5 separate regions of the Homo sapiens genome follow, and all the other regions are reported to be linked to region 2. The links are microRNA targets in miRTarBase. Many come from high-throughput screens and were not tested one by one. Region 2 holds a microRNA gene; each other region holds the end of a gene's coding sequence.
The links. Region 2 holds the annotated microRNA hsa-miR-3976 (UAUAGAGAGCAGGAAGAUUAAUGU, at 3,314-3,337, opposite strand). A microRNA usually pairs through its seed, bases 2 to 8, with sites in the 3' UTR of a target mRNA and lowers its output. Matches are read on the target gene's strand: a 7mer-m8 pairs with bases 2 to 8, a 7mer-A1 pairs with bases 2 to 7 and ends in A, and an 8mer does both.

Region 1 (6,711 bases), not on the chromosome of region 2:
GAAATCCCGCCTCTACTAAAAAGACAAAAAACTTAGCTGGGTGTGGTGGTACATGCCTATAGTCCCAGCCACTTGGGAGGCTGAGGCAGGAGAATTACTTGAACTAGGGAGGTGGAGGTTGCAGCGAGCCGAGATCGTGCCACTGCACTCCAGCCTGGTGATAGAGCAAGACTCCGTCTCAAAAAAAAACAAAACAAAAAAACTTACATTGATAAGCAAACTCTCCAGTTAAAATCAATTTTTCTTTCTTTTTTTGAGACAGTCTCGCCTTGTCACCTAGGCTGGAGTGCAATGGTGCAATCTCGGCTCACTGCTACCTCTGCCTCCTGGGTTCAAGCAATTCTTCTGCCTCAGCCTCCGGAGTAGCTGGGATTACAGGTGCATGCCACCCCACCTGGCTATTTTGTATCTTTAGTAGAGACAGGGTTTCACCATATTGGCTAGGCTGGTCTCAAACTCCTGACCTCATGATCTGCCCGCCTCGGCCTCCCAACGTGCTGGGATTACAGGTGTGAGCCATCGCACTTGACCAAAAAACAATTTTTCAAGTGCATTAAAAATACCAACTTTCTCATCAAAACCTACAAAGTAGCATGTGAAATGACATGGCATTACAAAAGTGAGAAAATTGTAGCTATAAAACAGAAAAAAAGAAGTGCTGTGATGTCATGCAAAGTTGGAAAACACGTAAGACAAACCTGAAGATAAATGGAAAATAAAACAAGCAGAATTTTGCTTTATATTCAGCAAGATTCAGGTTTGCTGCCTAAAAAAAGATCCTATCCACATAAAGAATCAATGTTTTTTCTTTGTCATTTATATTTTACATCTCTGACTTAAAGTTACAAAATAACTCTAGCAGGAATATTTACAGATTATAAAACATCTGTTACTCGGCAAGCACTGTCACGTTTTTTTGCTACATTTATATATTAAAACATCCTCATGACTTATGAAGCCTCCTTAGTACTTACCTGAATGTTATGGGAAGTCAGGGACCCTGAACAGAGGGACCGGCTGGAGCCGTGGGAGAGGAACATAAATTGTTAAGATTTCATCTTAATATGGACATTTATCAGTTCTCAAATAATACTTTTGTAATTTCTTATGCCGGTCTTTAATCTCTTAATCCTGTTATCTTCATAAACTGAGGATGTACATCACCTCAGGACCACTGTGATAATTAACTGTACAGATTGATTGTAAAACGTGTGCTTGAAAAATATGAAATCAGTGCACCTTGAAAAAGAACAGAATAGCGACTTTTATGGAACAAGGGAAGACAACCATAAGGTCTGACTGCCTGCGGGGTCGGGCAAAGAGCCATATTTTTCTTTTTGCAGAGGGCCTATAAATGGACGTGCAAGTAGGAAATATATCACCAAATTCTTTTCCTAGCAAGTAATATTAATACTCTGGGAAAAGAATGCATTCCTGGGGGAGGTCTATAAATGGCTGCTCTGGGAATGTCTGTCTTGTACAGTTCAGATAAGGACTGAGATAAGCCATGGTCTCCTGCAGAACCCTCAGGCTTACTAGGGTTGGGAAAACTCAACCCTGGTAAATTTGTGGTCAGACTGGTTCTCTGCTCTCCAACCGTTTTCAGTTGTTTATCAAGACAATACATGTACTACTGAACATACACCCTTATCAGTGGTTCTGCTTTTGCCCTTTGCCCTGTGATCTTTGTTGGACCCTTATCAGAGGTTCTGCTTTTGCCCTTTGATCTTTGTTGGAGCCTTATTAGTGGTTCTGCGTTTGCCCTTTGCCCTGTTCCCTCAGAAACGTGATCTTTGTTAGACCCTTATCAGTGGTTCTGCTTTTTGCTCTTTGAAGCATGTGATCTTTGTACCTACTCTCTGTTCTTACACCCCCTCCCCTTTTGAAACCCTTAATAAAAACTTGCTGGTCTGAGACTCAGGCGGGCATCATGGTCCTACTGATAGGTGATGTCACCCCTGGCAGCCCAGCTGTAAAATTCCTTTCTCTGTGTTATCTCTATTTCTCAGCCGGCTGACACTTATGGAAAATAGAAAGAACCTACATTGAAATATTGGGGGCGGGTTCCCCCAATACCTGAACTGGCTCAATCAACAAATAAATTTACTTCTGTCAATTATAAAAAGTGAAAGGAATAATAACTTAAATAGGCTTATATAAGGTTCTTCAATTAGAAGAACAAAATAGAATGTTTTAATTCAATAAAACAATACACTAATTGTGGAACTACATCTAAAAATTATTTTGTGTGCCCTACTAAATTTTATAAAAATAGTTTATATCTTTGACCACTTCACATAATGAAAACCTCATAAACTATAAAAGAAAAAAAATTGTAAGAAACAACAAAAAAATGTGGGCTAGGCATGAGTACCAATCAAGTAAAAACAAAATTTGCATAAGATTTTGAACCCATAAGCCATACTATTTTACAGTAATTCAGTAGAAAGAGTATAGATTTGCTTTCCGCATTTTTGAGGTTTATAGTTTTCTAGTAAATTAGTTACCTTACTAAAATGTTTTGTTCCAATATTGCTCTTTTCTTCTGAAAATAGGAACAAATTTATACTCACACAAACATGCTTACTTACTCCATAATTTTCTTACACCTAGGGTTTAACTTAAGAGTAATGTATGTATATATTTAACTTTACTAAGTCAAAACTAACAAGTCTGTATGTGTTTGCAGGCAGAGAAACAACATGTTCAAAAATACATATAACAATTTTTTTAATGCTTATTTAGGACTCAGAATGTGTGGACTTTATTTATACTTCTATATAATTTTTAGCATAACCATAAAAATAGCCCTGTAGTCAATAACAATTGTACATTAAAAAAAACTAAAACTGTAGAATTGGTTTATAATACAAAGGATAAATGCTGGAGATGATGGATACTTAATTTTTCCTGATGTAATTATTACATATTATATGTCTGTATCAAAATGTGCTATATATGGCATAAATATACACATACAATGTATCCACAAAAATTAAAAAGTATAAACTTAGATGAGAAATAAATATTTAACCTATGAGAACATTCTTTAACCTCCTTGCAGTTTAAAGTCACTGGCAAAAGGGATTACTAGAAATGTTTGTCCATTATGTTACCAAATAGTATGTTACCATCTTTTGCCTACACCAGTGAGTAAAGTGAAATAGGTTAAAGTTAATGGCATACTAACTTTATTAAATGTTTTATAAATGTTAAATAAAATTTTAATAAAATATTAAGTTCACACATAACTTAAAATTTTAAGAACGTACATTTTATTACATAAAAGTACAATTAGTAAAATAATTTACTAATTTTAACTAAAATTTAAAATGCTTTTTTCTCACTATAATGCAGAATATTACCCTGAACACCCACCTCATGTGTCACTTATATTAACAAAAAGAGCCTCTCCACTTAGATTTTTATGTGTCTTACATTTTAATGTCCTTACCCTTCCATAAAAAAGATCATAATGCCCAACTAATAAAAAAAAATTCTCCTATCTCTGATGCAACAATTAGTCACAAGTTGAATACAATAGAAATGAAGAAAACAAGAAGAGTTTTGAATTTTGAGAGTTGAATTACATTATTCATGTTGCAAATAATCTGTATTTTTTAAGGAAAAAAGTATACTTTCAATGTAATTATAACTTTTCAAAAAATTTTCTACACCTTTTAAAGTTATACACAATTTATCTAACAACTTTAGTTCTGGATTATTTTTTATACTCAGCATTCTGATTTACTGTAATGTCTGAAGTGTCAGTGCCTTAGATATTTCTGAGCTATCTGATATTTACATAGACTTAATTTTAGAATAAATATTGTTTTATATTTACTGCATCTACAAAAAAAAAAAAAAAAATATATATATATATATATATATATATATATATATAGAGAGAGAGAGAGAGAGAGAGAGAGAGAGAGAGAGAGAGAGAGAGAGAGAGAGAGAGATGGAGTTTCACACTTGTTGCCCAGGCTAGAGTGCAATGGCACGATCTTGACTCACTGCAACCTCTGCCCCTCCAGTTCAAGCGATTCTCCTGCCTCAGCCTCCTGAGTAGCTGGAATTAAAGGCACTCACCACCATGCCTTGCTAATTTTTGTATTTTTAGTAGAGACAGGGTTTCGCTATGTTGACCAGGCTGGTCTCGAACACCTGACCTCAGGTGATCCATCCACCTCGGCCTCCCAATATGCTGGGATTACAGGTGTGAGCCACTGCGCCCAGCCTGCAGAAATATATTTTAGTACTAACTCTCTGGTGTTTTCTAAAGCTATAGATTTTGAAAAAATGTGTTTTTCTAAATGTATTACATTTGCAGAGTTTTTCTCCCATACAGATTCACTGATGTTGAAAAAACTTTGAGCAACTGCTTCAGGGTTTTTCTCTAGTACAAAATGTACATGATAAGCTTTATGATACCAGTAAATGTACTACAACCCTCTTTATGTTTGTAATCTTTGTCTTCAAAACGAATACTCTTCTTCACTTTAAAGGCTTATATTTTCTTAAAGTCTTTAGACAGTAATTGCATTTATAATGCTTTTATTAAGTACCAACATTCTGATATTAAGATGTCAACAGATATTAATGGCTATTTTACACTCTTTATATTTGTACAATTTTTCTTAAGTATAAACGCTTTCCTGTGCAATAAGGTTTGAGCCTTAATTAACAGTATTGCCAAATTCTTCACACTTGTAGTTTTCTCCAGTATGAATTATCTTACATACAATGAAGTGTGAAAACCATTTAAAGTCTTTGACACATTCTTTACATTTCTAGAATTTTTCACCAGTATGATTTCCTTTATATTTAGAAAAATTTGAGGTGTTGTCAAAATCATTATCACACATTCCAGTTCTGTAGTTTCTCTCCAGTATGTATTTTTTTATGTTTAGTAAGGTTTGCAGATTGGTTAAAAGCTTTGTCACATCTCTCACATTTATAGGGTTTCTCTCCAGTATGAATTATCTTATGTTCAGTAAGTTTTGAGGATCGGCTAAAAGCTTTGCCACATTCTTCACATTTGTAGGGTTTCTCCCCAGTATGAATTCTTTTATGTGTAGTAAGGGATGAGGAGTGTTTAAAAGCTTTGCCACATTCTTCACACTTGTAGGGTATCTCTCCAGAATGAATTTTCTTATGTTCAGTAAGTTTTGAGGATTGGATAAAAGCTTTGCCACATTCTTCACATTTGTAGGGTTTCTTTCCAGTATGAAGTTTCTTATGTTCAGTAAGTTTTGAGGATCGGTTAAAAGCTTTGCCACATTCTTCACATTTGTAGGGTTTCTCTCCAGTGTGAATTCTCTTATGTGTAGTAAGGGCTGAGGAGTGTTTAAAAGCTTTGCCACATTCTTTACATTTGTAGGGTTTCTCTTCGGTATGAATTTTCCTATGTTCCGTAAGATTTGAGGATCGGTTAAAAGCTTTGCCGCATTCCTCACATTTGTAGGGTTGCTCTCCAGTATGAATGTTTTTATGTTCAGTAAGTTTTGAGGATCGGTTAAAAGCTTTTCCACATTCTTCACATTTGTAGGGTTTTTCTCCAGTATGAATTCTCTTATGTGTAGTAAGGGTTGAGGATTGGGTAAAAGCCTTGCCACATTCTTCACATATGTAGGGTTGCTCTCCAGTATGAATTTTTTTATGTGTAGTAAGATTTGAGAACTGGTTAAAGGCTTTGCCACATTCTTCACATTTGTAGGGTTTCTCTCCTGTATGAATTATCTTATGTGTAGTAAGGTGTGAGGACTGGTTAAAGGCTTTGCCACATTCTTCACATTTGTATGGTTTCTCTCGAGCATAATCTTTTTTATATTCAGTAAGGTTTGAGAATTGGTTAAAAGTTCTGTCACATTCTTGACATTTGTAGAGTTTCTCACAAGTATAAATTCTTTTATGTTTAGTAAGCTTTGAAGATTGGTTAACAGCTTTTTCACATTCTTCACATTTGCAGAAATTCACCTTGGTATAATTTCTTTCATGTCGAGTTAGGTGTGAAAGCATGCAAAATGATCTGCCACATTCTTTACATTTGAAAGGTTTATTTTCCATATGTTTTATCTTATGTCTATCTGAATGTGAAAATTTATTAAAGACTTTCACATATTTATCACATTGAAACATTTTGCTCTGCATAGTTGGTAAACATTGGTTAAGTCCATTATAACCTCCCTTGTGCAACTTACATTCATCCACACTTTTACAGCCTTTTAACTGAAAATTATCATTTCCACATTTTTCATATCTTCTCAGTGTCACTTTTTCAAAAGAATCTTTTATGTTCTGCTCTGGCCAAAACTCTTGGGCAAAATGAGAACACATTACTGAAAGAAATAAAAATAACACATTACTTTACAGACTCAGATAAATATACTTTCCAAACCTAACTTATAAAATTACACAAACTACATAAGCAAGATGGCACCACAGGCCATAATTAAGTGTATGTGTTGCCCCAGGTGAGCACAATGCAAAGAGCCACATAGAAAAAAAAAAAAAATTCTGTCACATTTACCCAACACAGCTTTTTCTACTCCCCAATATAACATAATGTTTTCAGAAGTAAATTACAGCCAGGTGCAGTGACTCACACCTGTACTCCCAGCACTTTAGGAGGCTGAAGCGGGCGGATCACGAGGTCAGGAGTTCAAGACCAGCCTGGCCAACATAGTGAACCCGCATCTCTAATAAAAA
Region 2 (6,711 bases):
CAACATAGTAATGATATACAGCCAGACTGTAAGAGAAAAAGCCATGGTGGAGTCTTGAGAAACCAATGTGCAGGCTTCCTCATGCTTTCTCCCTCCTGCGAGGGGACACCCAAGAGCATGCTTCTTTCTTCAGCAACAAGCATCTGCTGATTCTGCCCAGGGATGCCCATTAGATAAGTCAAGGTTCTCATTAGAAAAGCCCAAGGTTTTTATGGGGAGCTGGTCACATAAGCACCCTCTGCCTAACATGTAACCAGTTCAGACTCCCAGAAGGAAAGCAGGTGTTCAGTGTAAAACCACATTGTGTATAGGCACAGGGAGTCACTCTTCTCAGTTAGGAAAAGTTGAAATCATCATAAGGAACTGTGTACCAGTCAAATTCTCCGACGCAAGGCAAGGGACAACCCCAATCCCTATGATAACTCCATGGGGTGGATATTATCTTACTTAACAGCTGATGGAATTTGAAGCTTAGAGATTTTTCTTTTACCCCAAGAGATAACTTACCCCAACATCACAGCCAGAAAGTAATTATCCAAACCCACAGTTCAGTTCTGATACATTCTGTTCTGAATCTTTGTTTTTTTTCATTGAAGTTAGAGATAGAAAATAGTTTTCCCTCTCTTTACCATAGAGCATTTTTGAACAAAAGAGACGATGTCTTCACAAGTACCTAGAAAGATAATACGCGAATCCTATTCTTTCCATGGTTATCATCAATGTAGGTAGTTTTAACAAAAAGAAGGGCCTTGGGTATATCAATAAATATGACATTTGAACAATCAGCTTTAGGAGTTTCCTGAATCTTTTTTCTACATAAAAGTAGTATATGAAAGTATAAATTTTCCAAATTATTGTTAGTTTGCTTTTTATTTTAAATGTAAGTATCTGGGAATTTGTTTTTCATACATTTGTTTCCTCTTATTCCTGGACCATGTGAAATTTTTTGTAAGCAGTTACACGATTCAAAGCTGCTGGCAGTTAACCAACTTGTACAAAACATGTGCTTCTACCACCTCTCTGGTAGTTCTATTTCAATAACCATTAAGCTTGGTTTTACTACCAAGACTCCTACATGTAGTTCAGCACCTGGAAACCAAAAGGTGAAAGAAAAGGCCTATTCTATTCTCTACTGGAACAAATCCTCCCTTTGTACCATGCCCTAGAGGGCACCCATGGTCTCTCCCTGGATCCTGGGAGCAGGACTTCGCTGGCTGATCCAGAGATCGACTGTAAAAACTTCAAAGAGGAGCCGTCCTTGTGGTTGGGTTCTTGTGGTAGAATCATCTCTCATAGGACAAGCCATGGCTGCTGCAAAATTGATGCTGATGGAAGCAAAGATGCTGATTTAGGATTTCCACTAAATGATAGCCTTAATTAAGAGTCTAAGTTTCTAGAATAGGAGTCAGCAAACTTACTGAAAGGGCCAGATAGTAAATATATTAGGTTTTGCAGGCCATATGGTGTCTGTCTCCATGACTCAGCTCTGCTGTTGCAAGAAGCCTTAAACAATACGCAAACACATGGGCATGGCTGTGTTTTAATAAAACTTTATTCACAAAAACAGGCAGCCAGTTGGATTCGATTTACAGGCTGCAATTTGCCAGCACCTGTTCATTAGCAGACTTTGCTATCTGTGTGCTTTCCTCTAATTTAAGATATCTAGGGAACTGTTACCTTCTTTATCCGTAGTGTACCTAATTATTCCTTCCTAGAGCATAAGCACAGTCTCTGTATACTAATACAAGAAGTGTCATGAGATTGGTTTACATACTTAATTTTCTTTGTAATGGACATCAGTACTCATCATTCTTAAATACAGAAATGCAGATAGAGCCTGTGTGTGTTAATCAACAGCACAAGAACCACTGTGTCTGTCACACTTCCACATCCTACATGAAGAACAGCTGGCATCTGACTGCTTTTGCAAAATGCATTTCAGGTACAATGTCAAAGAACTATCTCCAGATCCCTATATACTGTACTACATCTGGAAAAAAAAACTAAGTTGTAGAATCACCAGAAATCATATTGGCCCCACCATGCAGAAATTCTTGGAAGACCAAACTTTACAAATACAAGTAAAATCTAAGTAAGGCATTCTGGTTCACAGTAGCTTTTTTCCTAAATGCAGTCTGAATTTCAAAATGTAGCTTAGCTTATTCAGTGATTGATTTGCACAAAATATGAATGCCATAAAACACGATTTGAATTTTAACTGTAGATGTCTTGGGTATTCTCCGTTTGCATTAAAACCATGGCCAGTTGTATCATATAGTAATTACAACCAGTAGATGGCATCTAATAGCTAGAATAATATTTTGGAACTATTTTTAACAACAGACTTGCTGATTTATGAGGGTTCACCCTCTGGTGTTATTTATACTGGATCATTTTAATTTTTAGCCTTCATCATCACAGTTGAATTTTAAAATTTCCATCCAATGAATTTATATAAAGGGTTACAAAAAGAAGAAAAACCTCCTCAATTTCAACTGGATAGTTTTATTGCACTTCCACATAATAAGCAGATTAATGTTCTGAATTTAAAAATTGATATAACTTGAAGACATTAAACACTGAGCACAGGCATTTCAAATATAGTTGGCTCTCTATGATTGAATAAAGCTGAGTTGCTAATTTCTGGACCAGGACCAAAAAATATATAATGAGTGTAACACCATACACCAACCAACTTGAACAAATTCAATGAGTCAATTGAGTTTAAAAGTTTCACAAATAATTAAATTACTGAATAGGATAGACCAGAAGGAGAAAACCAAATTATTTAATTCTGTTCCTTAGAGCTCAATTTGCTTTTTAGCTGACTGTATTTAGCTATCTGCAACTAAAACAAACTAATATCATTAAAAACCCATCTATTTTCTTATGCAACCTCAACAAAATATCAATGGGTTTCACCACTTGCAGATAGTATACTTTTTAAAAGGAGGTAAAATCTGCCAGTCTCAACTCTTTCTTTCCCTGCAATGCTCATCAAAGCTAGCATTTTAGATTATAAATAATCTGAGGCCAAGAATAAAAAGAATGCTTCTTTATGTTGTCTAGGTTGTGATCTACATATTTTGGTGTCTGAGTTAGATGGATTGCATAAATAAAATAGCATTCTTGGAAATATGAAGGACAGAGGTCTGTGGGGGAAAAAGAATCATCTAATCAGAGACTTGTTTCTTACTTTAATCATGAGCCATAAAAACAGCCAAATCCCATGTCATGCTGCAGTAAAGGTTACATCAGCACTTCATACAATATTTATTGTGTAAAGGAAGCCCTGCAGTCCAACTCCAATATGACATTAATCTTCCTGCTCTCTATATCCCTCATTCCATCCTCCCGCCTCACGCCCACCCCTTCCCTCAGTTAAATGTGCTGGTTGGTGCCGCTTATATAGTGGAGATACCTGATGGGAGGGCACTGATATAACAAGAAATCTAGACGACAAAACAAACAGAGAAATAGATCCAATCCTAGGAAAGCTGCATTATACCTTTTAAGAAAGGGGGGGGGGGTCAATCATTTCAGTTTGCCCTAGTTCGAGGGGATTCCTGGATGTGGGACTTCCAGTGCTAGGGCCAACAATGTCTTAGACAAACCAGAAAAAGTTCGTGACCTAATGTTTAACAGGCTTATGGCTTCAGAATGTGAAGGCATCATTCAAAATTATTTATTACACCCTAGTCGTATAAGAAATCACCAAAACCAAGACATGGTACTGGGCTGTGCTACTTAAAGCCTGCTGCTACTGAGACAAAGGTCAGGGTTTAATTTCCAGAAAAGCCAGACAGCTTTTCTATGATCTCAGACTTCTTCATTACACCCAACCATCTAGGCTCATGGGTTTAGGGAGGGTGAGACAGGGCTTTAGAGAGCTAACAATTCAAGGAACTAAATAGCTACATTGGGACCAGCATCTAAAATCAGAGCTTACTGGCAGTATTTTCCTGTGGTATTGCCCATTCTGTAATACTCATTGAAAACTTATTTATACTCAAAAGAATGCATCAGAGCAGCTGAAAAGCCATGCAGGCGTAAGGATTCAATCAACCTAATTACTGTTCTTCTCCATGAAGCTGCTCTGGATAACTTGAGGACCGTCAGGTGGGATTAGAAAGCTTTGCTGCCTGGAAGTCTATGCTCATTTTTTGAAAAGCTCTCTCTCTGACTCCTGGTAAACAAGTGATGAAGAAAGGTACTGCAATGGGATGCAAGTTATATCATCACCTTTACTGCAACAATCTAGGGAATGGCAATATATGATCTAGCAATTGAATAGCCGAAGTTATTAAAAGGTCCCCTTGGTAATTGTACACTGAAAACTCAAAACTAGCATTGTTCCATTTAGTACAAACCATGTCACAGAAAATGACTTTGTTTTAACAGAATCCCTTCTGATAACGTCTGCTCACATTAGGCCAGGTAGAGAAAGAAGAGAGAAGATTTCCCCCTTTTGCCTGTGCTCCACTCTAGTTATTCCATTTCCCCATTCATGTCTTATAAGCCCCCTCACCTTTCATCCACATTCGCCTTCCCCGAGATCAGCACCAGCTCAGAGACTTCACTCACTAGAGTCTTGTTGCTTTTTAGCAACCCTTCTTCTGAGGGGACCGTGGAGCATCTCATTATTCTTCTTCGGAAACTGGATTTGTGGAAAAGCGTGGCCAGCCCTGCCCTGTATGTGTGTGGTGTGCACACTTGTGCACAGAGGCCTCTGCCAGAAGAAGTGGCAGATTGGCTGTGTAGGCAGCAGTTTCATGGAGCCCAGAAATAAGTTCTGCGGCATATGCAAATGTAAGCAATGGGGGCAGCAGAACGGGCCTCTAGGTTCAAAAATGGCAGTTGTCTCCAAGAGGCCAGCCTTTTTCAAAAGCAGACCACTAAAAGTTATTCTTACGAAAAATGCCTCCCTCTGAATGAATCTCAAGTTTCTACTAGTAGGTCACTGGTGACTTCTTAAAAAGCCGTAAGTAGCTTACAAAAATATGTTATCCTGGAAAGGTAATGATTAGCAATGTATTACATGTAGTTATTCCAGAGTTCAAGAGATAGTGAGAACAGATGGATACATTTTGACTCCAGGTCCCTATGAATAGGTGTTTGAAAACAGTCCCAGGGAACCAACGGCTAGGAGTTGGGGGATAAGGGTTACAGGTAGTCTACCTGATAATCTTATCAAAGGCCAATAGCCCCTCCTCTCTTTTGCCTTCTTTTCCTATGAAGGGAAAAGGTGAAAAAGACTCACACCTGGTACAGCCTTACCAGCCATGGTGCCACAGGGATTTCAAACAAAATGTCCCCATCAAAGAGAGAAACAAACCTTTTTCCTTTTCTACTTTCACACAACACTTTCAACACTTCTACAATTCAGTTCAATTATCGGGCAGACACCAACTGGGTGTCCTACAATTTAACACAATTCTGACACAATCTACCTGGAAATAGTATCAGATCCCCCAGGTTAAGGGATCGGTCCCATAGGACTAACTCCACTCAGACACCAGTCACAGGTCCAGGTGTCACCTGTGCTTCTGATAGACCAGCTATAAATGGGGGCCCCCATGACTCCCTCCTCGGGTTGGATAATTTGTTGTAACGGCTCACAGAACTCAGGAAAACAGTTTACTTACTAGATTCCAGATTTTTTATAAAAAGGAACACAACTTAGGAGCAGCCAGATGAAAGAAATGTATAGAGCAAGCTATGGGAGATGGGGCTGTAAGCTTCCACGTCCTCTCTGGGTGCAGTTACCCTCCCAGCACCTCCACGTGTTCATCAACCTAGAAGCTCTCCAAACCTCCTCGTTAGGGATTTTTAATAGATGATTTATTATATAGATATGACTGATTAAATCATTGGCCATTGGTGATTAGGTCACTCTCCAGCCCCTCTCCCCTCCCCAGAGGTTGATGAGTGGGGCTGCAAGTTCTGAGCCTTTAATCCTGTGGTTTGTTTCCCCTGGCAACCAGCCCCCATCCTTAGGGGCTTTCCAAAAGTTATCACATCAACATAAGCTCAGGTGTAGATGAAAGGGGATTGTTATGAATAACAAAAGATGCTCCTTTCACCTTTATCACTCTTATCACTTAGGAAATTAAAAGGGTTTTAGGAGCTCTGGGCAGAAACCTGGGAATGAGGACCAAATACGTACTTTGGATTATATCCTAATACCACAGCATCATGTATCTGAATCTATTTAGTCCTAGCCCTTGGAAAGCAAGGGAGGTGTTTGAGAGTAGCTAAATATTATAAGTCATTTTTAATGAAGATAGGTCTTAATATAGATTTGGATACCTGGAAAGAAAATATTTGCAGCCCAGTAATTTAAAAACCAATATGCGAGCCTTTTCTTTCTTCCTTTTTTAATTAGAAACGACGGATTGTCATTCACCTTTTCTAGAGGATAAATCATTCTATGAAAAAGGTGTAGTGAAATGATTAAGAATAGAGGCTCTGTAGTTGGACTATCTAGGTTCATATCCTAGTTCTGCCACTTTAGTGTGTGGAACCCAAAGCTATTTGCAATTTAATTAAGTTAAAGATACTGGAGGTTCCTACAACATAGTGTGCTTGAAGTGTGAATAAATACATGGTTAGAATTATAATTGGCACATAGCAAATTCTTGTTATTTGTTATAATTGTCATTATTGAAATCATCACCCTTTGTGAAATTGGGTAGAGGTTTTCACTAAGAT
Region 3 (4,000 bases), not on the chromosome of region 2:
GGTAGGATGTGCTTGTCTCGACCTGTCGAGGGCAGCTTGAGGCTAGGATGAGACTGGGTTCCCTGAGAAGGTGCCATATTTCCCACCTCCAGTCAGTCCCGAAATGAAGGAATACTGCCCAGTCATCTGCAGTTCTGAAATCAGGAGCATCTTCGTTGGTCAGATCTAAAAACGGCACTAACATTCTGTCTTGTGGAGAAATTGAGCCTTTTAAAAATGGGAAAAAAAAGCTTATTAAAACAAACGGCTGGGCGCAATGGCTCACGCCTGTAATCCCAGCAATTTGGGAGGCCAAGGGGTGTGGATCACTTGAGGTCAGGAGTTGGAGACCATCCTGGCCAGCATGGTGAAACCCTGTCTCTACTAAAAATACAAAAATTAGCCAGGTGTGGTGGCCCGCCCCTATAGTCCTAGCTACTCAGGAGGCTGTGACAGGAGAATCGCTCAAAATCAGGAGGTGGAGGTTGCAGTGAGCCAAGATCATGCCACTGCACTCCAGCCTGGGCAACAGAGTGAGACTCCATGTCAAAAAAGTGTATAAAAGAAAACAAACACAGATGCTTTTCAGTTTGTTTCTGGCATTCATATTCTGCTCAAATGTGTTTGTTCCATACTGCAGGTAAAAGAGAAATACCTGCATTGCGCCACAATTACTTCCTTGAGGCTCGCTGCAAAAGTTAATGAAGAAGAGGAGGTATGCATCCTTGGAAGTCCACACTGGGCTGCACTTGAGGTATAGGGGTGTAACATTGGAGGACTCCAGTTTCCTGATAGGTCTGTGCCCTTAGGTATGGTGGATGTTTTGAAAAAGTCACCAACTTGCCGGCATCTCTGCTATCCCTTCCATCGGCTTGTCAGGCTTTGAGACCCCACAAATGAACAAGTAGAGCAGCTGAACTGTCCTGGCCCACCAAACCTAGAGACCTGAACTCTTGACAGATACATCTGGCCTCACTGGTTGATGACAGATGCTACCTCTCTCTAAACAGGGGCATCTGCTGTTGAGCAAGGAAAAAGGCCTCCCAAACCATGTGACTTAACATCCACCCCAAGCAATTATGTCTAAGAAAGCTGCTTGAGACTTGAGGACTTGGCTGTGTCAATGAAGCTGGTCCTTGGGAACTCTGGGACCCCTGAGAGGGACAGGAGGGCCATGTGCTGGGGGTAAAGTACAAGGGGCCCATGAGCATTTCAGGCATGGCTGGATGGCTGAATTTCACTGTGGCATCTGTTCAGGAGGAGATCATCTCCTAATACCCTTTCCAAGCTTTCCTACCTCCCTCCAACTTCTCCCAGTTTGGGGATGGTGAAATCACTGCCATTGCCACGGGGGTCACCCTTAGCTGATCTCTGGGTCTGAGGAGGCAGGGAAGAAGTTGTGTGTCCAGTTCCAAACCTTCAATAAAAATGTTTTAAACTCCTGTTTATTAGAATAGAATTAATGCCCAAGTTGCTTTTGTCCAACTAAAAATCAAGTGACCCTTTTTCTGGAGGTTATAGTAATACTTCTGTTTATCTAAAAACATAGGATCAAGCCTTTAATGTACTTGGTACTCAAATGTTTACTCATAGACAAGCCTCATTAGTCCCTCTGTGGGAAAAGCCATAGTTTTTCCAGAACTGAACCACCTTCAATCAAGGTTGAAGGAAATGTGTTTGCAGTTGCGATGCTAAAAAACCCATAGGAGGTTTTATCAATGTGTCTGGTACAGACTAGGAAGCTCAAAAGCATAGTTTTTTTCTCTATGCCCAGTACCCACGGTAGGGATCAGGAATAGGGAGAGGCAGAACCCATGGCTCCTGGAAAGCTTGGGGTGAGTTCTTGCAGCTGAACAGGGGAGATGGCACAGCCCCAGCCTCCAAAGCACCTTTGGGTATGAGCTAGCATGCAGCTGGGGGATCAAGACCCGGTTTCAGAGGGGGACCATGTGATGTTCACTACATAACTACCTGAGGATTTGACAGATAGCCAAGATCTGGTTTAGTATTTCTTTCAGAAGCATTTTCTGTGGCAGGCCACAGGAAGACAACTCCACTAAGGTCATGAATGCCCAGTCCCCATGGGTAAGAAAACAAAAGCTACTATGACATGATGTAGGGCTTTGGCCTCTTTATTTTCTTTTTACAGTTTATTCCACAAGTAAAAGACTTCACAAAGCACTATGGCTCTGACTATTCCCCGAATGAGCTGCTGAGGATGGAGCTGGCTATTCTGGACAGACTGCACTGGGACCTCTATATTGGGACGCCGCTGGACTTCTTGACTATAGTGAGTAAGGAGGTGTTTACAGAGTCTACCCTAAACTCGTTTGTGCCTTTGGAACAGCTGTTTACAACATGGGATGGCAAAGCACAGGCGTGCACACGCCCTTGCACATGCACCACAGTGAGGTGACGCACAAGGCTCATGACATACGGAAGAGTGAAAAGGTATCTTAAATCCAACACAGTTCCACCAGACTCCCACTTCTAAAGGACATTAAATTAACTTTACAAAGATTTTTAGACGGCACTATTATGGTGAGTTTCTCTTTTAAATACACACTGCAAAAATATTTAACTTTCCATTCTATGAATACTGTACATAAATATCTGTCTGCTTTTGCTACACTTTACACACATTCACTTAGCTGTCTTTATTCACCTACACACAATCCTTATTGAAGCTTTAGACCATATTGATCTGGCACTTAAAAAAATATCATACATTAGTTTGTATTTGTTTTAGTTGGGGGAATGATGGTCATCCTTAAGGATATGATTCTGTTAGTAAGGCAAAATTATGCAATGTGGAAATCTCATGGGGTTTTGGTTTGTTATGAAGCATGAAGATTAAATTACTAAAGACTGTTTCATTACGAAAACTGGCCACCGTTGCCAAGTTGCAGAGTTTCGTCTTATGATAAGCAGATACAAGTAACTTTTCTGCTACCTTGGTCTTGAATAGTATGTTTCTATTTTTCAGAATGGAAACATTGTCATCTAGGTACTTTCCGCTCATAACGATGATGTCACAAAGCAGACTTTTTTTTTTTTTTGGTCCCGGAGTGGAAGCTCAGCTTGGCCACAGGATGGGCATTAAGCCTCAAGCCCCTTACGGAGCCATGGATAGGAATGAAAAGGGTTGGGCAACATTTGATGTTCCCTGATGGAAATTTAAATTGTTTGCACTTTTGATCATTGATATAGGAAAAGTATGGCGTTTTCTGTTCTAACATTAAAAACCATGGTCTCCAGTTCCATGCCCTGGTGGTCCTGAGCTGGCCCCATGTGTTGGAGCTGCTGCCTCAGAGGAATCCTTCCCTCCACGTCGCATCCCTGACCAGGCAGCTGCAGCACTGTATGGCGGGCCACCAGCTGCTGCAGTTCAAGGGCTCCACACTGGCCTTGGTCATCATCACCTTAGAGCTGGAGAGGCTCATGCCCGGCTGGTGTGCTCCTATATCTGATCTGCTAAAGAAAGCACAGGTAGACATCAACTTTGCCCCAGACCAGGCTCTGTGTTTTGCCCCTTTAGCTGACACACTCTGACCCCAAAGGGGTACCCTTTGCCCTTGTAGCCTCTGGAAAATGTTCTGGCCATAACCCTGGAAAGAGTCTGCCCAAAGGCTAGGCTTTCCACACTTGGTCACGCTCTATGCACTTGAGATGGGACATGTGTTCCCTTCACTGGACCAATGGGGGTGGTCTCTGAGAGTGAGAGAATCTTTATCTCAATGGGAGCCCTTGTAGCCAAGAGGACTGTGGGGAGTCAGGGGTATGTCTGGCTTAGGAGGAAGCAACCCTGAGCTTAATACTGAGGAGCATAAATTCTAAACTCCTTCACCTCTCCTTTGTATGAGTGTGTGGTACCAGGTACAGGGGTACCATGAGGCAAGCATTGTGGGGGCACAAGGAGGAGAGGGGTGTGTCAGAATCCCTCAGAACAGATAGGTTAGGATGGAATGCATAGTTAGACTAATGACAACTTTACTGAGGTTGGAAATGGATGTCCCTGAGA
Region 4 (6,711 bases), not on the chromosome of region 2:
CCCCAGAATTCCACTTCAGTCTCAGAGCTTTCAGCTAGGTGGGGTTTATCCCCAAACATGCCACAACCCCTCTAGTTATATGGGAGCGGTAACTGTGAACCACCATCGCTGGCTTGATCCTCCCTTTTCCGTGGATTGGTGCTCCTGAGTATGTTTACCGGTTTCAGTACATAACACAGCCAGATAGAGGGCCGCGGACTTCAGCGGCGAGAAGCTACAACAAAAATAGGGTGAACAAAAACGAAGGTGCCCAGGAGCCTGAATTGCATTTCTTTCTTACCTTTGGTCATAGAAAGGAGCACTTAGGTGTTTGGCTGGAACGCAAAGTGAGACCAGAGCTTACATTCTTAGCAGCCTGGGTTTGTCTCGAGAGGCCATGCTTCTCTCCTCCCTGACATTTTGCTCTCAGAAGCACCAGTTAGCATCAGAGGAATGTTGTTTCCTTCTCTGAAACAGCCATCAAGTACCAGCGATTTCTTGGCTCCGGCAAGTTAAGTGCTCTGACCCCTCCCTTATCTAACTCACCCCGCACACCATCCACATGGCAGGGGACGCAGCCAGAAATGGAGCGGACTGCATCTTTTCCTTGCCCACTCTTTTTATCACCATGACAGAGCCACTGGACACCAGGAAATAAATACTGAACCACCACACTAAAACGTTTACTCCACTTTGGGCAGAAGGAGCCTATTTTGCATATTAAGTGCCTCCTATAAAGCAGTCAAGTGAGGGAAAGAGGAGTTCTCGCTCCTCCGTGAATGCTGCACGGGAGCCTCCAGTCGGGAACAGCTGAACAGGTAGCTCTGAAAGAGGACCTTGGTCATAAACGCATAGATAAGATTATCCCGAGGTTCTCGCCCACATGCTTCCTTACCACAGGTGGGAGGGCTGCTGTTAGGCTGTCTTCCTTGCTGAGCATTGACAAGCAATGAAATAGTTGAGGCGTAGCAGCAAGAAAGGAGGAAGAAAAAGGGCCTGGTTTTTTGGTCTTTAAGAACAGACCACTAGTGGTGTATTTTGGGCTGGATATTTGCTGAGCCGACCGTTGACGTGCTGAGCTGACGGTTGACGTGCTGAGCTGAGGGTTGACGTCTCTGGTCATTACACAGATTTAAATAACCAGCAAAAGTGGGGTGGAAAGGTTTTTCCAATTGTTTTCAAGGAAATGTATTTTGAGGATATATTGAATCTGACATAACTTTCAACTCACTTTCAAACCAATCTACTGAGCTGAAGAAAGAGATCAGAAATGAAATGAAATTCTGATATACACTTAATCGACTTAAAAAAAATTGACAGGAAAAATAAAATTTCAGATGTTTTTTATTCAAAGGTTCTCAAAAGAAATAAAACAGAAAAGCTAACAATCTGATCAAATGTACAGTTCAAAAATGTCTTTTGGCGTTTAACAACAAGTCCTAGGAAAGAAAACTACAGAGTTATCTTGAACCGGACAAATAAGTTACCACTGGCAAGTCTGTGGCACTAGTAAAACAAAAATAAAAAATTAACTCTCTTGATCATATAGATATCTCTATGAAAATCTTTTTTTTTCAATCTGTACAAAAGGTCTTTCTTCATAAATTAATTTTTTTATAATTTAATGGCTGTCTACTATGTGATGTTTAACTGATTTTTTTTTTTTTATGTACAGAGGTTATGTTTCCCAAATCTTACCCAGACGAGTATGGCACTTAGTTCAGACATTTCTAGCAGCAGATTTCCCCTCCCCTCTAACCGAGCTATCAAATTTCTGTCTTAACTAATGCAAAAATATCAAGTAGTGAGAGACCCAGGTTTATAACTGTACTAGGTACACAGAGGGTGCTGCGTTCAGTCTGGACTTTCACAAAGCAGTAATATTCCAGGGAGCATAGAACCAATAATACCACAACTTTAAAAAAATGAAACAAAAACAAAAACAAAAACACATTTCTCTTATGACTATGTAATTTTCACTAGAATCTACACTTCTCAGAGCAGCAAGGACTTTTGAAACTATGAAATGTCACTGACATCTATCATCAAATACAAGCATAAAATTTAAGAACTAAAAAATACTTGAAAGAAATAACTGCTTAGCCCTAGCTCCTGAGCTAGGAGGATTTGGTCTGTGGAAACAGGGAGGGCCAGCAACCTGTCCCAGCACAAAAGAAAATAGACTCTGAGGTAGATAACTGATCATACACAGCTGACCAGACAAGTACACAGTTTTGGAAGACAACTTAATTTACCATTGCTTTTAAAACATATGCAATTGCCTTAATAAAAGAGCTTTAATAACAGTGAATTATCTTATATGTACTAAAGTAGAAATAACTGTGTATTTATGAATCAGGAATTTCATAGTTTCAAAATTGGTTTTCTTTACACTTGAACACTTGTAGTGATGATGTAAAGTGTGGCACTGCTTGGATCCAAATCTTCCTTCATGCTTTTTTGTTTGTGTGTGTCCATACATCAATTAAAATTATAAAACCTAAATGCAAAGGTACAAAAAAGGCACATTCTCCTAACCGCAAACTGGTCCGGCAAAAATAAAGAGCACAGAAGATGTGATGCTGAGACAAGTTGGAGCTACTGGTTACTGGCTCTTCGGTCTTTGGTGAAGTTACCTTTAAAAGTGCCAAGTCATTTTTATTTTTCAAATTTACCTAATAGAGAGAGAGAGAGAGAGCTAGTAGCCAATCGTTTTGCTTCTATTCGTTATCTCAGCTTATGTTTGAAGATAAATCCTTACTTTTAGCTTTTGCCACTTTGTTGCAATAGCAACATTTTTCGGTTTGCCAGATTTCAGGCATAATTCTCATTCTAAAGCACTATCATTAGTATAAAGGAAGGACAAAACATTCAGTGACTCCCCTCCCCCACCCCCATCCCCAACCCCAACACTACCTACACTAAATCTAGTACATCAAGTTAGCTTTTTTTTTTTCCTGAAAAAAGGCAAAAAAGACTTTACATTGCATCATACAGCAGATATCCTAAATCAGTCAAACTATCAGAGGAAACTGTTGGCGTACAGCCTTACAAACAATTTACCCTAATAAAAGTTCCCCAGTCAGAAAATGTGTTTCACACAAAACATTTTTCCCTTCTTGCATTTCACTACCTTACACATTATGTGAAAAATCATTAAAAACACCTACTACATATTTAAAAAAGCCAAAATTTCAGCAACTTTTATTGACTACCTTTTAAAAGCCCTATGCTGCTGTTTTACAAGGCATAATAGACCAGCTCATTTGGTCAAAGCATTCTACATCATTAGTTTGAACTAACTTTTACTGAAACAGCTACAGCATCAAAAGAGTTAAGGCAAATTGGAATTCATAGAAAAGGATAAGACACTTCACACTACGTTGAAAGAAAGACAGAAAGCTAAGAAAAGAGACACTGACGGCAACACTGAATTACAGCAACACTCGCACTGCAAGCACAGAACACCATGGGTGAAGTCGGACTATTTAAACTTCAGAAAGCCCATTTCATACAGCTGGAAAAAAAAAACACAAATTAAACACAAAATGAACAAAACCACAAAAATCCGGTCATGCACTTGGATAAGTCTTCATGGTCTTTGTGCATACCCAGAAAATTGAAGTTTTCTTTTCTTTTTTTTTTTCTTTTTCTTTTTTTGCATCATAACATTTGATAAAAATCTTTTGTTTTTGTTTTTTGTTTTTTTTTTTTTACTAAAATAAACCTGTTCGGGGGAACAGCTACTAGATGAATTTAAGGGTTTTATGCACCTTATAGAACTTATAGCAAAAATAGTTTTAGTTGATTTCATTATAAATAACGTTTTCAAGAACCTGTGCAAAACTGTCAATAATTTCCTAAAGCACAATTGATCAGAAAAATCCATGATTGTTCAGCCTTCACACCCTTCTTCATGTAAGAACACCTTTCTGTACATCTGGAAGAGAAAAATAAAAGACAAATGCTTTTGTAGATTTGGTGTGAAACACTACAGAGCTTTGTAATCTGTTTCTTGTTTTAAAGAGATATGTGTTTGAAAAAGGTTATGCTCATCACTGATGGTAGACTGATAAATGCAGACTCTGGAACTGATGGTTACTTTCAATGCCTGTCACATCCAGGACTTGCAAAATACTTTCTTTTCTAATTTAGAGCCAAATTCATTTGGGTCTCTAAAGAGTGACTTTATGAAATCAAAAATACATGTTATCACCAGGGCAATCCAGAAACCAAGGTATTCTATATCACCAGGGCAATGCAGAAACCAGGGTATTCTAAGTTCTACACAGCTATTTTATTACAGTCTGCATGGTAAAGTGAAAAGTTTTGAAATTTGTGGTTCAAGTGAGAGTTGGGAATATAATCTTTCAATCTAAGGATATTGACATTTATCTAAATTCATAATCAAGATGTTGCTAAACTTGTAATGCTAGATTGAGCAACATCTTATGCTATAGGTCCTCCAGTTTCTGAGTATTAAAGTAATATGATATAGGATACTTGTATTATAGAACAATTTTGGTTCTTGGTGTTCTCTGATGTTACAGATTTTTATTTTTTTCTTTTTAGTGGGGAGAGTATACATTTGGCTTCAGTATAAAGCATTCTCTTTAGACAAAATGATTAATCTTAAATTCATAAAATCACTGATTTTAATATTTCAACAAGACTAGATGCCTTGGCCACGATTAAAGCAGTATGATAAAATCCGAGTTATCCCAATCACCATTCTGATTTTAAAAAAAGCCCTATAGATTGTGCTTGATTTGAGCCCCCCAGTTATGAAGACCTTTCCCTCATACCTCACAGTTACTTATTAGGTTGAAAGGTATATGGAGAATGGTCATTAGACGTCTCGACAGCCACCTGCTGTTGACCACTTGCCTCCTACAACAAACAAAGCAGAATGGATGAGACATGTTAGTGAAAAAACCTCAGCTCTGCTACTTAGGCCTGACTGAATCCAACAGTGCCTTAAAAACAGTTACTCTTTAAAGTAAATTTCTTCACGTCATGTAGAGCTTTCAAGGTTAATCATTTCCCTAAGCAGCTGGCATGTCTAACAGACCCAAAGCACCTCCCATCCAAATGTTTATGACTTTCCTATTCTTATCAAGCTACAGCATATCAAACAAATCTCTTACCCTCTTATCCCCTGGGGACAGATGTGATTTGGAATTCAGTATTTTCAGATTTTATAATCTGAAATGTGGTATGCATATGCTGTATATCATTTAATGCCTCCAGTAGGGTCTAGGGCTGCACCTCATAAGCAAACATATTAATAGTTCTACACTGGAAGCCATGAAGCAGCACAGTTAAGTGGGATCAAGATTTTGTCTCATCTCAATTCAGGTTGAGTTTTGCCATAGGTCAGGTTTTATGCTAAAGTAGTTACAAAGATAATTTTTATTTTCAGATTTCTTTTTGGGTTTCAGATTGCAGGTAAGGAATTGTAGGCTCTGGTAACTGTGGTTGTCAGTAATTGCACAAACAGAAGTAAAATACTACTACCACCACCACCACCACCACCACCACCACCAACACCTACTACTACTACTACTGCTACTACTATCACCACCACCACCACCACCTCCACCAACAGGCCAGAGTCCTATGATCCTTTCCTGGAATTGGAACCTTTGGGATCTGCCTAGTGGGCAAGATCAACTGGATTGATACATTTCCTTGAAATTTTAAGGATACTTTGCAGGAAAATGCCACGTTTTCTCTCTAACCATAATTCAAATGCTAGACTTCTTTCTTTCATATCAGTATCTTCCATAACAAGAACAGTTATCTAGCCATACTAACAGCCTCTGTAAAAACAGCTATAGCTTCTTCTTCATCCCTGTAGCAGTTTCAAAACAGCTTTCTCTTTTCCACTAAGTATCTTAACTACAACTGATTTCTTTTCGTCATTATTAATTATCATTGATACGATCTTTAGTACTGGGACTGCAAACTCCAGATTTATCTTATTATGTCTGTAGTATCATTTTATGAGAGACAAGACAGAACGTCCGAGGGGTATGAAAGGCACTATAGGCTTAGAAAATATTTCTGGGAGTCTTAAGAGGTGTGGCCTGGATGTTGTTACCCTAATTTGTCATGATCATAGCTCACTGTAGTTGCAAACTCCAGGGCTCAAGGGTTCTTCCTGCCTCATACTCCTGAGTAGCTGGGACTACAGGTCCATGTCACCATGTCTGGCCAATTTTCAAACAATTTTATTTTTTGTAGAGATGGGATCTCACTATGTTGCCCAGGCTGGTCTCTAACTCCTGACCATAAGCAATCCTCCCTCCTCAGCCTTCCAAAGTGTTGGACTTACAGGCATGACCCACCACATCTGGCTAAACGCAATTCTTTATGCAAATATTTGACGTCTGGTAGATTTTTCTGAGTTCTATTTAATTTACCCATTTCTGAAACTACTTATAGCCAGAATGGTCACTGGATGGTCTCTACCAACCTCAACAGGAACCGCTGTCGTCTGCATATGTGCATACTGTGGCAAGTAGGCTCCTTGCATAGCTGACGTTGCAGGCATGTACTAGAAAGAAGAATGAGGTCAGAATGGGCAATGGTAAACCATGCAAAATTTGGAGTACGTGGGGGGATTGTGAGATGGATATAATGTATTTGGAAATCTCAAAGAAGAAATTTAAATGGGCTACACCTCAAAGCTTAAATAGTGCATATAAATATGTCATATGGAAGGTAAAC
Region 5 (4,000 bases), not on the chromosome of region 2:
TAGGCAGAGGCAGGAGAATTGCTTGAACCCAGGAGGCGGAGGTTACAGTGAGCTGAGATTGCGCCACTGCACTTCAGCCTGGGAGACAGAGTGAGACTCTATCTCAAGGGGGGGGAAAAAAAGCAGGGGGTCAAAGAGTAAGTAGAATATGTTGCCATTTGTGTGAAAAACAAAAAAATGTGTAATTTTGTTTGTTTGTTTTTGAGACAGTCTTACTCTGTTTCCCAGGCTGTAGTGCAGTGGCACAATCTCAGCTCTCACTGCAACCTCAACTTCTTGGGCTCAAGCAATCCTCCTGACTCAGCCTCCTGAGCAGCTGGGACTAAAGGCATGTGCCACTCGATGCTCAGCTAATTTTTACATTTTTCTTTTTTTTAAAGAAATGAGGTCTCCCTATGTTGCCCAAGGTGAGTCTGGAACTCCGGGGCTCAAGCAGTCCTCCTGCTTCTGCCTCCAAAAGTGCTGGGATTACAAGCATGAGCCATCATGCCTGACCAAAAATTGTATAATTTAAAAAAGGCCTATCCTTAGAAAGATATGAAAAAAAGGTATGAGTATATAATCCCACTGGGACCTTCTGACTTCTGTACCTTATATACATATTACCCGTTCACCCACATACCTGCCGACACACAAATTAAAACATTCTAAATACTGATTCTTGCGCTGTATCCCCAGAAAAGTATCCAGGATATCAAAGGTTGGATGCAGGAATCCGTGTCTAAAGCACTGTGTGTCACTTCATTCCACACCCGGAACTGAATTCTCAGGAAGAGCCAAGATGCAAAGGATATTTGAAAGCATAAACTTAAAATGCATTTTATCAGGAAAATAAGTAGGAAGATCTCTAAGGGATTATGAAGCCACATTTGGGAACCCACTGATTTTGTTTGACCTCTGCTTTTTTTTTTTTTTTTTTTTGGATGAGTATAGAGAGGGAGAGTGAGTTGCCTAAAGCTACACACCCAGTCAGAGTTACAGGCCAGTGCCCCAGGATTTGTTTCTTTTTTATTGTTTTGAGATGGAGTCTTGCTCTATCACCCAGGCTGGGGTAGAGTGGCGCCATCTGAGCTCACTCCACCTCTGCATCCCAAGTTCAAGTGATTCTCCTTCCTCAGCCTCCCGGCCCTGCCTAATTTTTGTATTTTTAGTAGAGACAGGGTTTCATCATGTTGGCCAGGCTGGTCTCAAACTCCTGACCTCGCGTGATCTGCCCACCTCAGCCTTCAAAAGTGTTGGGATTACAGGCATGAGCCACCGTGCCTGGCCACCCCAGGAATATTTGATAACATCAACATCAAATCATTCCTGCCTGCCCTCATGCAGGGACTTCTCACTTAGAAAGTTCTATAGACCCAATGGGCAGGACAGGAAGATAGAGAAGAAAACACCATCTTTAATCAACCCGCCTGCACAGAAACCAGGAGAGCACTCCCCTCCTTGCAAGGTCCCAGTGAAAAGAGAACCTGGTCCCCTTGCAAAAACCATCTTATAAAAACAAAAGGCTTCAAAGCACCAGTGGCTACACCCGTTGAGTAGAAAGGGGCTTGGGGGAGAGTTGGGGTGAGAGAGGTGAGGGCTGGAGGCAGGGCTGGCCCAGTGAAGGGCAGTAGCTTAGCCTGAGGGAGCTGCCCCCCTCTCAAGCTGTACCCACCAGCTGGGAGCTCCATGCCTGTGGGGGCCAGAGGAACTCCTGGGCCTGGCTGCTTGCATTTGGGATGGTGGGGTGGGGTTGCCAGCCTTGCTCAGGATATTTTGGCCTTAGAGAGTAGGGAATGATAGATTGGAGGGTAGTGGGAGAGGAGCGGAATGGTCACCACAGACAGGCTCAGGTGTGCAAACCATCTGCACCATCTGGGTGCCCCCCAGTTCCTCCATGTCTCCTGCCCTCCTTTCTAACCCAGGGCCATGCCTCTTTCACAGATGAAATGCTGAGACCTGATCCTCTCTCTATGGACGCACCAGGCAGTGCGTGGGATGCAGCGTCCTCAGGAGTGTCTGTGGAGGGAGGTGGGGAAAGTGTTCTCACCTCTACTTGCCCCCAAGGAAGGGTGAGGGTGCTGGCAATCCCGACTCCCCGACTACTCACACCCCCATCTGCCCCTTCAGAACTCCTTCTGGGCTTGTTAGAGGAGGCTTCTGGCCATTGGATTGGTTGTAAATGCTGGTGATCTGTAAACACTGGAGTCTGGGCAGCGCTGACCAGCATTGCTCCTCTCTGAAACCACAAGCCTTCCAACTGGTGAGGTGGATGGAGCCGTCAGGGGTGAGTGGAGTTGTGGAGGTGATGGGGATACAGTAGAACCAGCCTCAGGGACCTGGAAGGGGGTGGAGTGACTGAGTTGGGGCCCCACTTTCCTGGAGGAGAGAGCTTGAAAGATTTGCCAAGGGTGGACAGAGGCTGAGTGTAGGAAGGCTTCTCTGTGGGTGGGGCTGAATTTGGGGCTTCATCCATCCAGTTCCCAATAAGAGAACGAATGGGTATATTGCTTTAAGAGAGGCATTGGCAAGTGGTGGTGGTGGTGTGTGAATATGGTGGAGACCACATAGGTCCAAGATGGAGGGGGGCTTGGAAATGGAACTCAGAGAGCAGACACTGGGTTTTACAGTCAGAAACTGCAGAAAGTACACTGTGTTCAAGGCCCACTTCCACCAAAAATCTAGCTGTGTGGCCTCAAGCAAATCACATCTCTGGGCCTCAGTTTTAATGTACTGCAAAATGAGAATTTTAATCCCAGTCTAGCTCAGGGAATTGAGTTAAATGAGAAGTCTAAAAGAGTCCATTTGCTAAGGGATTAATTACTTGAGGTGCGGAAACCGAGGCTCAGAGAGGGCAAGGGCTTTGCTAGACGTCACAGTCAGTGATGGACCTGCGATTAGAACCCAGGAATCCTGCTCCTAGTTCACAGTAGCTTTCCCCAGAGCTGGTGAGTGAGTGTGGTGGGATGGGATGGGTCTGATGTCCTGCTGTTTTTGGACAGGGGGGCAGGATGCTGGGTGAAGAGTGAAAGGGAGAGGCTGGAGAAGAGAGGAAGGCCCCAGCTCACGCCAAGGCTGAGATTAAAAACAAACAAACAAAAAACAAAAAACCCGTGGTGCCCCTCCCCCGCCCCGCCCCACTCCTCCGAAGTCCGGGCTGCGAAGAGCCAAGCTCAAATCCAAGTCCAAGTCCAAGTCCACGTCCAAGTCCGCATCTCCAGATGCAGACGCGGGGTTGGGCACAGGCTGCAGTGAGCGCGCGGGCCACCAGGGGGACACGCCTGCGCCTTGGCCCGAGCTCGCGGCAGCTGCGGTCAGCCCAGGGCGAGGCGCCGGGGTGGGCGCGGGGCAGAGGCTACCCCGACCTGCGGGAAACAAAGGCAGGTTAGGGAGAGTGGATCCCAAAAGTATGGGGGCGGAGAGACCCGGTTGCCCTGCCCACTCCTCCATCCCCTCCTTTTCGCAACCCCGACGCCCAGGCCTCCCCAAGCCAGCAGGGGGCCGTGACCCACGTGTACAGAGGCTGCAGCTGTAAATGCGACGTCTTCTGGGGCGCCTGGTATCCGTAGGAGTCAAAGCCGCCGATGAAGTCAACTGCGGAAGAGGGGCGGCGCATGTTAGGGATCGGCGGCGGGGGCGAGGAGAGGGAGACTGGGTCCTGAAGGGGAAGAATCTGAGGGCAGGACTCCCACCCTAGGAAGCGGAGCCAGAGAAGCCATGAGGAGGGGAGGGGCGAGGGTCAGACCCCGTGCAGGGCCTGGGGCGGGGCTTCGGCTGGACCCTGAGGGATGGGCCTCTGGGGGTCTGGAGGCGGCGAGGCCGGGCCAGCTGAGGGTCAGGCCCCAGTCCTTAAGGCTTGGGCCTGGGAGGCCGGGCAGTCCTATGGGAGAGAAGGCTCTCAGGGGCGGGGCTAGAGCCTCTAAACGGGACAAGACCTCTGATGGGGTGGGGCGAGATTGGGGAAAGGGGGTGCTGGGGCCAGGGACTGGGCACCTGGACGTCTGGACCCCAGCCTGGAACG

Region 1: the mRNA of ZNF675 is a reported target of hsa-miR-3976. The part of its 3' UTR that is shown has no 7-base or 8-base seed match.
Region 3: the mRNA of SEPTIN8 is a reported target of hsa-miR-3976. The part of its 3' UTR that is shown has no 7-base or 8-base seed match.
Region 4: the mRNA of RBMS1 is a reported target of hsa-miR-3976. Seed matches in the 3' UTR shown: 7mer-m8 at 2,658-2,664.
Region 5: miRTarBase lists NKAIN1 as a target of hsa-miR-3976. The part of its 3' UTR that is shown has no 7-base or 8-base seed match.

The regions. Positions count from the first base shown.
Region 1 is chr19:23,648,366-23,655,076 of GRCh38, forward strand. ZNF675 (zinc finger protein 675) reads right to left here. Exons shown (of 4, transcript NM_138330.3): 4 at 4,436-6,341. The coding sequence ends at 4,861. Among named protein-coding and RNA genes, the nearest start is that of ZNF675, 35 kb to the right of the region's middle.
Region 2 is chr18:5,837,328-5,844,038 of GRCh38, reverse strand. MIR3976 (microRNA 3976) reads right to left here and starts at 3,344; the gene lies at 3,206-3,344. The region is part of intron 4 of MIR3976HG (MIR3976 host gene); the gene reads right to left.
Region 3 is chr5:132,748,729-132,752,728 of GRCh38, forward strand. It overlaps SEPTIN8 (septin 8), which reads right to left. Exons shown (of 10, transcript NM_001098811.2): 10 at 2,091-3,453. The coding sequence ends at 3,288. It overlaps CCNI2 (cyclin I family member 2), which reads left to right. Exons shown (of 6, transcript NM_001039780.4): 3 at 620-694; 4 at 2,129-2,269; 5 at 3,238-3,468. Among named protein-coding and RNA genes, the nearest start is that of CCNI2, 3.3 kb to the left of the region's middle. RefSeq lists an enhancer at 2,913-3,122.
Region 4 is chr2:160,270,846-160,277,556 of GRCh38, forward strand. It overlaps RBMS1 (RNA binding motif single stranded interacting protein 1), which reads right to left. Exons shown (of 14, transcript NM_016836.4): 12 at 6,458-6,538; 13 at 4,785-4,869; 14 at 1,306-3,919. The coding sequence ends at 4,792. It overlaps LINC02478 (long intergenic non-protein coding RNA 2478), which reads right to left and starts at 1,050. Exons shown (of 2, transcript NR_103775.1): 1 at 875-1,050.
Region 5 is chr1:31,178,369-31,182,368 of GRCh38, forward strand. NKAIN1 (sodium/potassium transporting ATPase interacting 1) reads right to left here. Exons shown (of 7, transcript NM_024522.3): 6 at 3,492-3,573; 7 at 1,377-3,344. The coding sequence ends at 3,335. Among named protein-coding and RNA genes, the nearest start is that of NKAIN1, 60 kb to the right of the region's middle. RefSeq lists a silencer at 3,246-3,495.